Linked DNA regions of Homo sapiens. The protein of the gene in region 2 interacts with the protein of the main gene of each other region in a biochemical or structural test. Each region holds a gene or a part of one and is shown on either strand. Other genes may lie near its edges.

Region 1 (3,650 bases), on a different chromosome or scaffold from region 2:
TCATCATAATATAGACAATTCAAAGTATTTAACAATATTAAACTTCATTAGTCTGATAAAAGGTATCCACAAAAAACCTAGATTAGAAAGGTACTTAGTGGTGAAAACTTCCCCTTTAAGAGTGAGGCTTAGTTAATAGGGTTGCTCCTAAAAATAAGAATAAAAAAAAGGGAGGAACAAGAGCAGGAAGCTCTACAGTTCTAGGCAGCATATTAGACAAGAAAAAGTAACAAAAGTTGTAAGAATTAGAAAAGAAGAAACAATCTGTCATTATTTGCAGATGCTATATTCCTAATTAGAAAACCAAAAAGGGCTGGACGCAGTGGCTCACTGTAATCCCAGCACTTTGGGAGGCCAAGGCAGGCAGATCACCTGAGGTCAGGAGTTCGAGACCACCCTGGCCAACATGGTGAAACCCTGTCTCTAATAAAAATACAAAAATTAGCCAGGTGTGGTGCCGCACGCCTGTAATCCCAGCTACTCGGGAAGCTGAGGCACGAGAATCACTTGAACCAGGGAAGCAGAAGTTGTAGTGAGCTAAGATCGTGCCAAAAAATACATACAGATGAATCAGTAAGATTAATTAGTTTTAAAAAATTTGCTGGATATAAAAACTACATCTAAAAGGTCAAATGCATGTTATCGTATGAGCAACAAGATCACTTGGGAGATGTAATTTTAAAGAACATACTATTTATAATAGAAACAAAATTATAGTGTACCTAGCATTAAATCTCAAGAGATGTATAAATTCTTTATGATAAAAAATACAACATTCTATTGAAAGACATTAAAGGCCAAAATAAATGAAGAGATACACCATATCCTTGGATAAGACTTAAAATTATAAAAATGTCAAGTCTCCCCAAATTGGTCTATAGGTTTCATGTAATTCCAAATTAAAATCTCAAAATGGTTTTTCAAAAGACTTGGTAAACTGATTCTAAAATTCATTTGGAAAAACAGAGGTCAAGAACAGCTAAGACAGATGCAGTGGCTCACGCCTGTAATCCCAGCAATTTGGGAGGCTAAGCCAGGTGGATCACTTGAGTTTGAAACCAGCCTGGCCAACATGGTGAAACCCCGTCTCTACTAAAAATACAAACATTAGCTGGATGTGGTGGCGGGCACCTGTAATCACAGCTACTCAGGAGGTTGAGGCAGAAGCATCATCTGAACCCAGGAGGCAGAGGTTGCAGTGAGCCGAGATCGCGCCACTGCACTCCAGCCTGGGCAACAGAGCAAGACTCCGTCTCAAAAAACAAAAACAAAAACAAAAAAAACCAACAACAAAAAAAACAGCTAAGAGACTCTTGAAGAAGGAATTTGCCCTGTCCAACAGCAGGACTTACACATCTGTAGTAATGGATTCAATGTGTTATCGGCAGAGGGATAGACCCAGGGACAGAATGGTGAGTCCAGAAACAGACCAACACATACCTCAGGACTACTTGAGGGCGCTAGTGCTGCTGGGGAGAGACGAGATGATGTATTTCTCAATAAATGGTACAGGGAACGGTGGTTATCTATTTGGGGAAAGACTGAAATTGGATCCCTACAAGGGAGAAGAATGCTTCAAAACAGAGGGCAGGGAGCCGTGCTGAGGATGCAGCACAGGAGGACAGAGCAGCGGCGGATCTGGCAAGGCCAAAGCTTAAGTGACCTTTGAGAGGGTGGTTTTAGCAGCATGGTAGGGATGAAGCTGGACTGGGAAGGGTTAAGCAATGAAGCAGAAGTGAGAAAGGAAATAGGGAGTATGGTAATTCCTGATAAATTGTGCTTTGAAGGAGGGCGGAGAAATGAACAGGGAAGTGGGGTCGAGAGGGTTGCTTTGTGTTAAGACAGAGGACTCTCCGTAATGACACTGGAGAGAGAGGTGACAGATGAAGGAGCAAATGCTTTCAGAGGTGAGGGAGAATGGGATCTGGAGCAGACGTGGGGGTCCCCATGAACAGGGACTGTTCTGCCACTGTCGCAGGTGGGGAGGCGATGAGGACACAGGCACAGGTGCAGAAGGCTGGGGGATTTGGAGGTGGGAACACAAGGTGTCCTGCAGGATGAAGTCTATCTTTTCAGTGAAGTGCAAGGCCAGGCCCGAAGGTGAGAGTAACAGTGGGGAGATATCGAGGTGAGAGTGGAAATGTTACTAACCAGTAGTGGAATTGCTGGGGATTATGGAAAATGCTCATTTGAGATTTGTGGCTAAGAATTTACAGGGAAAATATGGCATCGGTTATGTGATTTCTCTCCTGCCACACTCAATGGTTCCCAAGCCAGTGGAGATGGGTTTTGTGCCAGATGATGGGAGACAGGGGCCAGGGAACTGAAAGTGTTTGTAGGAACAAGATTAAAATGATAGCTCTAACCTAGGTAAGGAGAGAAGGCAAGATGGGAGAGGCAGGATGGTACGCAAGTGATGGGTTCAACGGACTGGCTTGGTCGAAGGGTTGAAGACTAAGGGAGTGGAAAGAGTCGAAGGTGGAGGTCAGAGAGCGGGTGTTTGCAAGACAAGGCAGCTCTGGTGCCCTCATGGTGGGGGCTGAGCTAAGGTAGAGAAAAAGCGTGCTGCAGTGAGAGTGACAAGGAACTGAGAGGCCAGGCTGTGGCCCACATCAGCCACATGGATCTAGAAGCCCAGGGAAAGGTGGCAAGAGAAGGCAAGAAGGGACCTGGCACAGTGGCGCACGCCTGTAATCCCAGCACTTTGGGAGGCCAAGGTGGTCGGATCACCTGAGGTCAGGAGATCGAGACCAGCCTGGCCAACATGGAGAAACCCTGCCTCTACTAAAAATACAAAAATTAGCTGGGTATGGTAGGTGCCTGTAATCCCAGCTACTCGGGAGGCTAAGGCAGGAGAATTGCTTGAATCCGGGAGATGGAGGTTGTAGTCAGCCAAGGCCACGCTACTGCACTCCAGCCTGGGCAACAGAGTGAGACTCTGTCTCAGAAAAAAAAAAGCGAAGGCAGGAGGGAAGGGCCCAGGAAAGGAGTGACAGGCAGGTGGCTGGATGGCCACAAGATCTTTGCCCCTCATGAGCACCCTGGGCTCAGGCCCCAAGACGGTGAGTCAAGCATGCCTCTTTAAAATTTACTAGGACATTTAATATTTTACTCCTCAAAGCAAATTCAAGAGATCAGCCTATATCTTGCAAGTGAGGAAACGGAGGCTCAGTAAGATGACGTGCCTTCTGGAGCCCCTAAGCCAGGAAGCAGCAAGACCCAGAGCCCGCCCCTGTGCACCTGGGTAGTTTCGGCAGCCCCCCGCGGTGCTCCCCCGCCGCCAGGTGCCTTCGTAGAGTGTGGTGTTCCATTTGCGGATGGTCCGGCTCTTGAGGGCGTCGGGTGTGAGGTTGCAGATCTCCAGGCGGGTGAACTCCCGCATGAAGTCTCGGAATGACATCCTGAGGTGGGAGGTACACAGGTGAGGCACAGCCCGTCAGGGCACAGAGCTGATGTGTAGGGGTGGAGAGGTGGGGTAGAAGGGGAGGGGGCGCTCACCAGAACTCCCCGTCCTCCATCTTGACCCGGAGCTGGTCCCGTTCATATGGGTCCACGTTGTTCCACTCTGAGGAGCTGTGAGGAGCAGGGCTCTGCCAGGGCTGGTGGGCACTGACCTGCCTGGCCTCTGTCCCTGGGGCCTGTCTACCCTG
Region 2 (3,650 bases):
CATCAACTCCTCCTTCTCGCGCATCATCTGCTCTTTCTCTCTCTCCACGGTTTCTCTCCTTTTCTTCTCTGTTTCCAGCTGTTGCCTGGTGCAGGGAAAAAGAGGCACAGGGAGATTTAGACTCTGGCAGGAAAGTGAGGGGTCAACACACTTCACGGGTACTTGAAGCTCCAGGATGGACTTGGTATCCTGAGGGCCACCCTAGCCTGCTGCCAGCCTGAGCTGCCTGACGGAGCAGCCGCTCCAGGGCTGACAACAGGCTCAGCACCACAGCAACCGCCCAGAGACAAAGGCCTCGAAGATCCCAGCGTGGTGACTGGGTTCCATTCCACCACACTCTCCCCATCAGCTCCACAGTCACCTGACAGGCACTGGCTGCCAGTGGCTGAGTTGGGAGAACACAGGCCCCCCCCACTCTGGCCTCACGCGCTCACCGCTCCAGCTGCTTCTGATGCTTCTCCTCCCGGGCCTGGGCCTTCATCTGCTGCACCTCGATGGTGTCAGGCTTCCTGCGGCGCATATACAACTCATGGTTGCCCATGCAGAGCTGCAGGATCCGCTTGTTGATTCTCAGACGTGGGGCATAAAACACAAAGTCCTACAAAACAGAACAGGGCCACCTGGACTCAAGCTCCTTCGTTTGGTTTTCTTCTCCAAACCATCCTTCACAAAGGTCCAGAACTTTTCTAAAAGAACAAATGTAGCAGAACAGGGATGGCAGCATCTCGGCACTAGGAATGTGCATTCTCCAGGACAGATGGAGGAAGGGCACGTGCCGCGTGTGTGTGCGGTTATGTGTGGGTATGTAGCACTGGGAAAGTGCATTCTCTGGGACGGGTGGAGGAAGGGCAGGTGCCGCGTGTGTGTGCAGTTGTGTGTGGGTAGGGACATCCTGCATGCACACTGAAATGCCACTGCACGTTAACTGCAAAGCTTTTCCAAGGTGAGAACTCTCAGCCTTGGGAAACCTTTCAAGTCTCAGAGCTGCCTGCTCTTCCAGGTAGCCACCTTTCATGATGTCCTCTCCAGCCTCACTGCTGCTCCCCATCCCCGATGCTTGCCTGGACTGCCTCTGCTGCTATTTGGGCTTCCTGTCTCCTCTGCCACAGCCTCCCCTCCCACACTGTTATTGCTACACTGACTGGGTCACCACCCCGACCCATCACTGCCAGCCTGGGAGCTCCAGGATGAGCTCCAGGGCCTGGGCCCAACCCACACAGAGACCTTCCAGCTCTGGGCCCAGCCTCCGCTGTGCACTCGGTTCTCTCTCCTCAAAGCTATCCAGCCCTGCTCCTGCCACACCAGCTACAGGTACTCGCCGCAGTGGCACTGTCACTTCACTCCAGTGACTCCTTTCAGCATCTCACTCCTATGAGGCCATCAGCTCCCAAGGGCAGGGGCCACACATTCACTCATCTCTTATCTTCCCAGGGTATTTGAGGTGTGCAGTACCTGCCAGGCACTGCCAGCTCGTGCAGCACAGACAGCCACGTGCGAGCTCCACAGCCTTGAGCACATCCCTTCACCAGGCTCAGTGCCTTCAACCATAAGGCAGGGATGCCGGTATCTCAAGGGACTTCAGATATGGGACTCAATCCTCCCAGCAGTCCCATTAGATGCTGGCGTCCCCGCCTTATCGGTGACGTTCAGGAGGTGCTCGGCGCAGGAAGAGCTGGCTGACACACACAGCGGTCACTCCAATTGCTAGTGCCTTGCAAGACCACAACCAGAGGAGCCTCCTGGAAAACAAGGCAGAATCACAGCCTTCGGGAAACTCGTGACCATGACTGGAAACATTTGGGACACAGCTGACAATCTTGGTCCCAACTCCTTGCTACTGCTGTGATTAGCTTACAAGACAGAAGAATATGGTTTAGAAACTCCCATGAAAAGTTATTTTTCAGTGACTCTGTTGGCTTCCTCTTAACCTCAGGGCCCCCAGCATCCAGCTTCTGACCATTTGGAACAGAGGGACAGGGTGGCTAAAACAAAAAAACAGTGCGATATATCCCACAGCAACTTCTGAGACCTAACGAGGAACCGGCTGAGCGGGCTCATCAACACATCCGAGAAGAATCTATTTAGCTTCAGTCTTTTCATCTGTTCCAGAAATCCTAGGGTGAGAGGTGATGCCAAGCCCTGAGAGCCCATGAACTTCCTGGGTGGGGCTGTCTTTGGGGTTTCACACCCTTGCTGTTAAGTCATTGGGTTTCCCAGGGAGGAGTCTGTGGAGCTGGGAGCAATCGGCATTTTTATGACCCACCTATCCCTTATTACACAAGAGGAAACAATCCTGCATTACAGCTTTGGAGGACTCTACCAAATAGGCCCTGACTCAGAAAACGCTGATTAGCACCAACTCCCCTTTATGGGGTTGTGGGGGTGCATGGGTGGGGGGATCAATGAAAAACCTCAATGGTTAACATAACAATGTCTCCCTCTCTCCCTTTCCCTGCAGAAGACAGGTCCTGCCAGCAACGGGAACCAGAATTTGGGGAGTCCACTGCCAGTGGGTGAGGGAGGATGGTGCCTGGCAGGAAATCTCTCCCAGTGCCTTTGAAGGAAGCCGGTTTCTCACTTCAAGTTAAAACAAAGACTCATACTGAAATGTTTCTAAATCCAAGTCCCTAACCTGATGCAGGATGCAGCTTCCTGATGCAGAACCACAACACGACAAGACCTGGAGCAGGGTTTTTAAACTGGCCGAGGACCAGCAAGGTAAAAATGCAAACCAGGCACAAGGAAAGTTCAAGAAAAATAAACCCAAGACCCTACAAATACAGAAGGAGAGAAGGTAAAAGAGCCCCTTTTCAAGTCCCCAGGATGCCAGGAAACTCTCCCACAAGAGGCCAATCCCAAGGCTCATCTGGCCGCAGAGATGGCAGGAGGCAGCCGCGGGAGGCAAAAAGGCAGCGGGGCTCCTGGGAAGGTCACGTGGGGGAAGCGTCCGAGGAGTCAGAGCGGAAACGCTGCTTACTTTCTCCAAATTTCAGATGCCTCAGAGCCTTCTGCCTTTTCCACAAGGCCACAGGAACAAAACGCCCTTTTGAAAGGGAAAAGGCAGCCGCCTCAGCCCCTCATAGTGTCACCTGGGCAGGCCGTGTCAGCTGTATACAAGGTCCCATCTAAAGAGCCAAAGTGTGGCCCCAAACTGCTGTATGCACCTTGGCAGGGAAGAGAAGCTGGCTTTTAAAAAGGAGACGCCAGTTGTTGGGTGAGAACTGGACAAAGACTCATTTGTGAGTTCACAGCAGAAACCGCCTGGGGTGAAGATGACCCGTGAAAGTCAACACAAGATAAGGAATCCCACCGCCTCAAACTTTGGGCCTCTTCTTTTTTACAAGAAAGTTCGATGTCGAAAACTTGAACTTCTTCTGCCCAAAGTTTACAGACTGAGGTGGGGCAGTGCCTCGAGCAGCCCTGGGGTGCTGTGGGGGTGACAGAACTCCACCTCCTCAAACCAGCAGTGCCCACTCAAGGCAAATGCTGCCTCCTCAGTGTGGCTCCTGCCCAACCTGCCTAAAGGAATCTCACCCCCATCTTCTGATCCGGCTTAGTTTTTAATCACAGCTGTACTGTTAAATTTACTACCAGGAAGCATCTCAGTTGCCTTTTTAACCCTTTCCTTCACGTAAATGTAGGCTCACCAG
Region 3 (3,516 bases), on a different chromosome or scaffold from region 2:
AATAGCTATTGAGCCTTTTGATGGTTCTGTCACATAAGTCTGGTTGTTTCTCAATTTTCCACACTGCAGGCTTAGGAGTCAGCTTTTCCAGACTTGTTCATTCAGTTACCAATCAGCTATCACTTTTCAGCTTCAAGTTTTTGTTGCTCTTGTCTCTTCTTCCAATCTCTTTAACTCCACTGGTTGATTCCGTCTGGAAATATCTCTTTATTTTCTTTTTAGAGGCTTACATGAGGGAATGAAGGTATGTACACTCTCCTCTCTTTAACTGGAAGTCCAGGAGTAGTTCTTGGCTTTAAAAGAACTAACACTTCACTGTATCTCACTTAGTTTGAAACATGTGAACCACACATCACTCATAGAAAACCAGATTTTCTCCAAAAGAAGACTTTCAAGTTGATGGAAACCCATTTTGTTTTTGCTTTTTTAAAAAATAAAATGAGTGTGAGGCTTCAGCCACCTCAGATACCTTTGACTTTGTTCCTCTAAATTACCCAGACGGTGCCAGATAAGCATAGTTCTGTCCCTCTCAGCCTCCCATTCTTTTAAATTAGAGACTTCTGAGTCTGTTTCCTTTAGTCTTTTAATGTTAGCCTTTTAATATTTTCCAATAAGTGCTTTCAACTCAGCAATATACATATCATGCTTTCCTCATTATTATTGATCCATCAATAAATATACAAAAACCAGAGGAAGGGTGTGCTCTGAAAAGTCAAAGTAACAATAACAGTGGTCATTGTACAGCACAAGAATGAACAATGGGCTATTCTTTGAAAACTCAAAACAAATGATTTACACAAAGACATATCTATAACATAAAGGTGAATGGACCATGTTATTCTTATTCTTAAGTACATTTTGCTTTTCCAGATAAGTCAAATGTTTCCTCTCTCCTACTCCTCTGATATAACAGTATTGAATGAATGTTGGCTACAAAATCAATTCTTGGTGTTGTTATGAATCTCAATATAAAACTTTTGGAAAGGTTCTGCTAGAAAAGCCAATTCTACCAGGCTTGAAATATGGATTCGAAGATGTCTTTTGTCTCTTTTGATTTTTCACTCAGAGCTAATTTTAAGGGAAGTCTTCAGGAGACACAAAAGATTTACAATTGCAAGAAAAATTACATCTTTAGCTCTTAGGTTGCTTTGCAAAATAATTAAATGTTGGCCTTTTACTTTTATAAAGACCCAGTTTAAATGACTTAGCCCAGGTCACCTGAAAATCATTGGTAAAAATGACGTGTAGTCAAGCTGTGCTTCCAGAGTTACGCCCTTGAGATCAAGGGAGTGAGAATACATCTTATTCCATAAACTTCAGGCAATGTTGCAAGGGTTTGTGAAGACTTGGCCAGCTCTCCGTTGACAATGGCCAAGGAATAGAAGCTCTAGACCTCCCTTATTTCTATCGTGAAAACAGAGGTATATCCAAGTGAGGGACTACAACAGTAATAAAGGGAAAAAAGTATTTAATTCCAAAATAAAATTGAAAATAACCTCCTGTCTCAGCCTCTTTTTGGGAATATCTAGAAGGAGTGGAAAACCATCTCTGGCTATGAGACTTGTATCACTACCCCTTTCTCCCTGGGGCGACAGGTAGAGGCTGTTGTAACCATTTTGAACCTTGTCCTGGAGTGGCTTGTTGCTTTTCAGTTAAAGAGCTTGAGTGAGCCTGTCTGGGCCTCTGGCAGACCCAGGAAATCTCTGGGAAAACAAGAGGCACTTGAACACTAGTGGCAGTAACAACACATAGTGGCCTAATGTCCAGTTTCTTTCAAGTTGAAAAGAAAATAAAAAGAAATCCAGACCACTGAAAATGGATCTGGCCAATGATGTTCACAGAAGAGAAAGGAAGTTTTTCAAGATTGTGGGGTGAAGTGGAGGGAGAGAGGGAGGGGAGAGGGTAGACAGGGAGGAGCAGAGGCTGGGAATAGTGCAGAAAGTTGACATCTCTCCTTTAAAGATATTCTACAGATCAACTCTGTCTAAGCCCAGCCCTGATTTAGTCAGGAGCTTTTCTTCTTCTTTCTGCTTTGTGGTCTGAGAAGCATTGCCTGTTAAGCACATAAGTTTAGGTAACAAATGACTTTTAGTAGGAGCCTCAGAAAGGAGATACCATTTAACAGGAGCCGTTGCTTTATAGATGCAATGGCTTCTATGACAAGCAGCCTTTGGAAGTTCTAGGACCAATCGGACACCCTGACTGATGAATAAATGCCACAAAGGACTTGCCAAGTGGGAGAAAATATGAGGTTAGAGGATAAAGCCAGTACTCTCTTGTTTGGTCATAAACTTGCCTATCTGGTGATAAGATTCCAATGATGGGAATCCCTTTAACCTTTTGAGGGACTCCCCAGGCACTTAACTCATCCTAAATAGCAACTGCATCAAGAACAGACACTGGTGTGTTTAAGTTTACAAATACAGCCATAAAAATGTCAAACAGGATCTACATGGCATCATCCTTCCCCTTTGCCAATCTCTTTCATTTCCATTGGCTTCTTCTCTTATTGTAAGACATCAAAAGGCACTTCCATATTGTTTTTGGAAATCACTAATAGGGCCAGCCTCTATGAAATAGGGCCCCAGGGATAACAGGTCATGCAAACTTAATGTGACTTTGCAAAGCCTTTCACAGGAGAGAACAGGTGGCCATTAAACCATAAAAGAGGCTGAAGCTCCTCAGCTTCCAACTCTGATTCCAGGACAGGATGGAAAACCTTTGGACAGTGTCAAAAAAAAAAAACAAAAAACAAAAAACAAAAACAGTGCTGCCCTCCTTGGTCTTCCATGAGATTTGGCTGAGTGGGTCTGAGTGGGAACTCAGGGTCTCTGAGATGAAGACTTAGAAGAGTCTCCTTACCATTCTCAGCTCTTCCTGATACATTGTAGGGACCCAGACAGTGCTGGTTTAGAAACTGAAGAATCACAGCACAAAAGGTGAAGATCGAAGAAGTACAGATATTTATTATGAATCAGTTTAAACCCTTTTGTGCCTCTGACAAAGTAACTTTAAAAAATTATACTGATCAAAGGACTGATCCAGGGTTTAATATTTCAAAAACACAGATAAATAGTTTACTACAGATAAATAGCTTCACCCTTTGGGTGTCTCCCAGAAGCATCTGAAAAATTTCTAGAGGGGGTCTGTTGAAGATGTGTAACTAGTACACCCCAACCCCCAACCTCAGTGGAAAGCAATGCCCAGGGATTAGGCTATGGAAGGGCAAAATGGACCCATTCAAATTTCCTCCCAGGGACCAGGCCCTATTAACCCTGGGAAATGTCCTTAGCTGGTGGGGGAAAGGTTGGCGATCAGGAATACATATGTGTAGTTTTTGTTAGAAGCCATCCATAGCACACCCGAGGGATGAAAGGCCTCCAAGTGGGAACTGGAACGATCAAATTCTTGCTGATTATTAATTGGGCCCTAATTTCAGAAAGCAATGCTGTTTTTACAAATTGGACCTGACTTTAAAGAACAAAACACAAAAAACAAAAAGAGTAGAAAATTTTA

The links.
Region 1: of the proteins of EZR (region 2) and CAPN1, one has a biochemical effect on the other in vitro, tested with the Homo sapiens proteins (one study listed by IntAct).
Region 3: the proteins of EZR (region 2) and CD44 form a complex in vitro, tested with the Homo sapiens proteins (one study listed by BioGRID).

What each region holds. Positions count from the first base shown.
Region 1 is NC_000011.10:65,188,337-65,191,986, reverse strand, and holds part of CAPN1 (calpain-1 catalytic subunit), read right to left. Parts: intron 3,574-3,650; coding exon 3,499-3,573; intron 3,402-3,498; coding exon 3,241-3,401; intron 1-3,240. UniProt on the Homo sapiens protein: Calcium-regulated non-lysosomal thiol-protease which catalyzes limited proteolysis of substrates involved in cytoskeletal remodeling and signal transduction. Proteolytically cleaves CTBP1 at 'Asn-375', 'Gly-387' and 'His-409'.
Region 2 is NC_000006.12:158,770,810-158,774,459, forward strand, and holds part of EZR (ezrin), read right to left. Parts: intron 599-3,650; coding exon 435-598; intron 86-434; coding exon 1-85. UniProt on the Homo sapiens protein: Probably involved in connections of major cytoskeletal structures to the plasma membrane. In epithelial cells, required for the formation of microvilli and membrane ruffles on the apical pole. Along with PLEKHG6, required for normal macropinocytosis.
Region 3 is NC_000011.10:35,229,452-35,232,967, reverse strand, and holds the end of CD44 (CD44 antigen isoform 1 precursor), read right to left. Parts: 3' UTR 566-3,516; downstream 1-565. UniProt on the Homo sapiens protein: Cell-surface receptor that plays a role in cell-cell interactions, cell adhesion and migration, helping them to sense and respond to changes in the tissue microenvironment.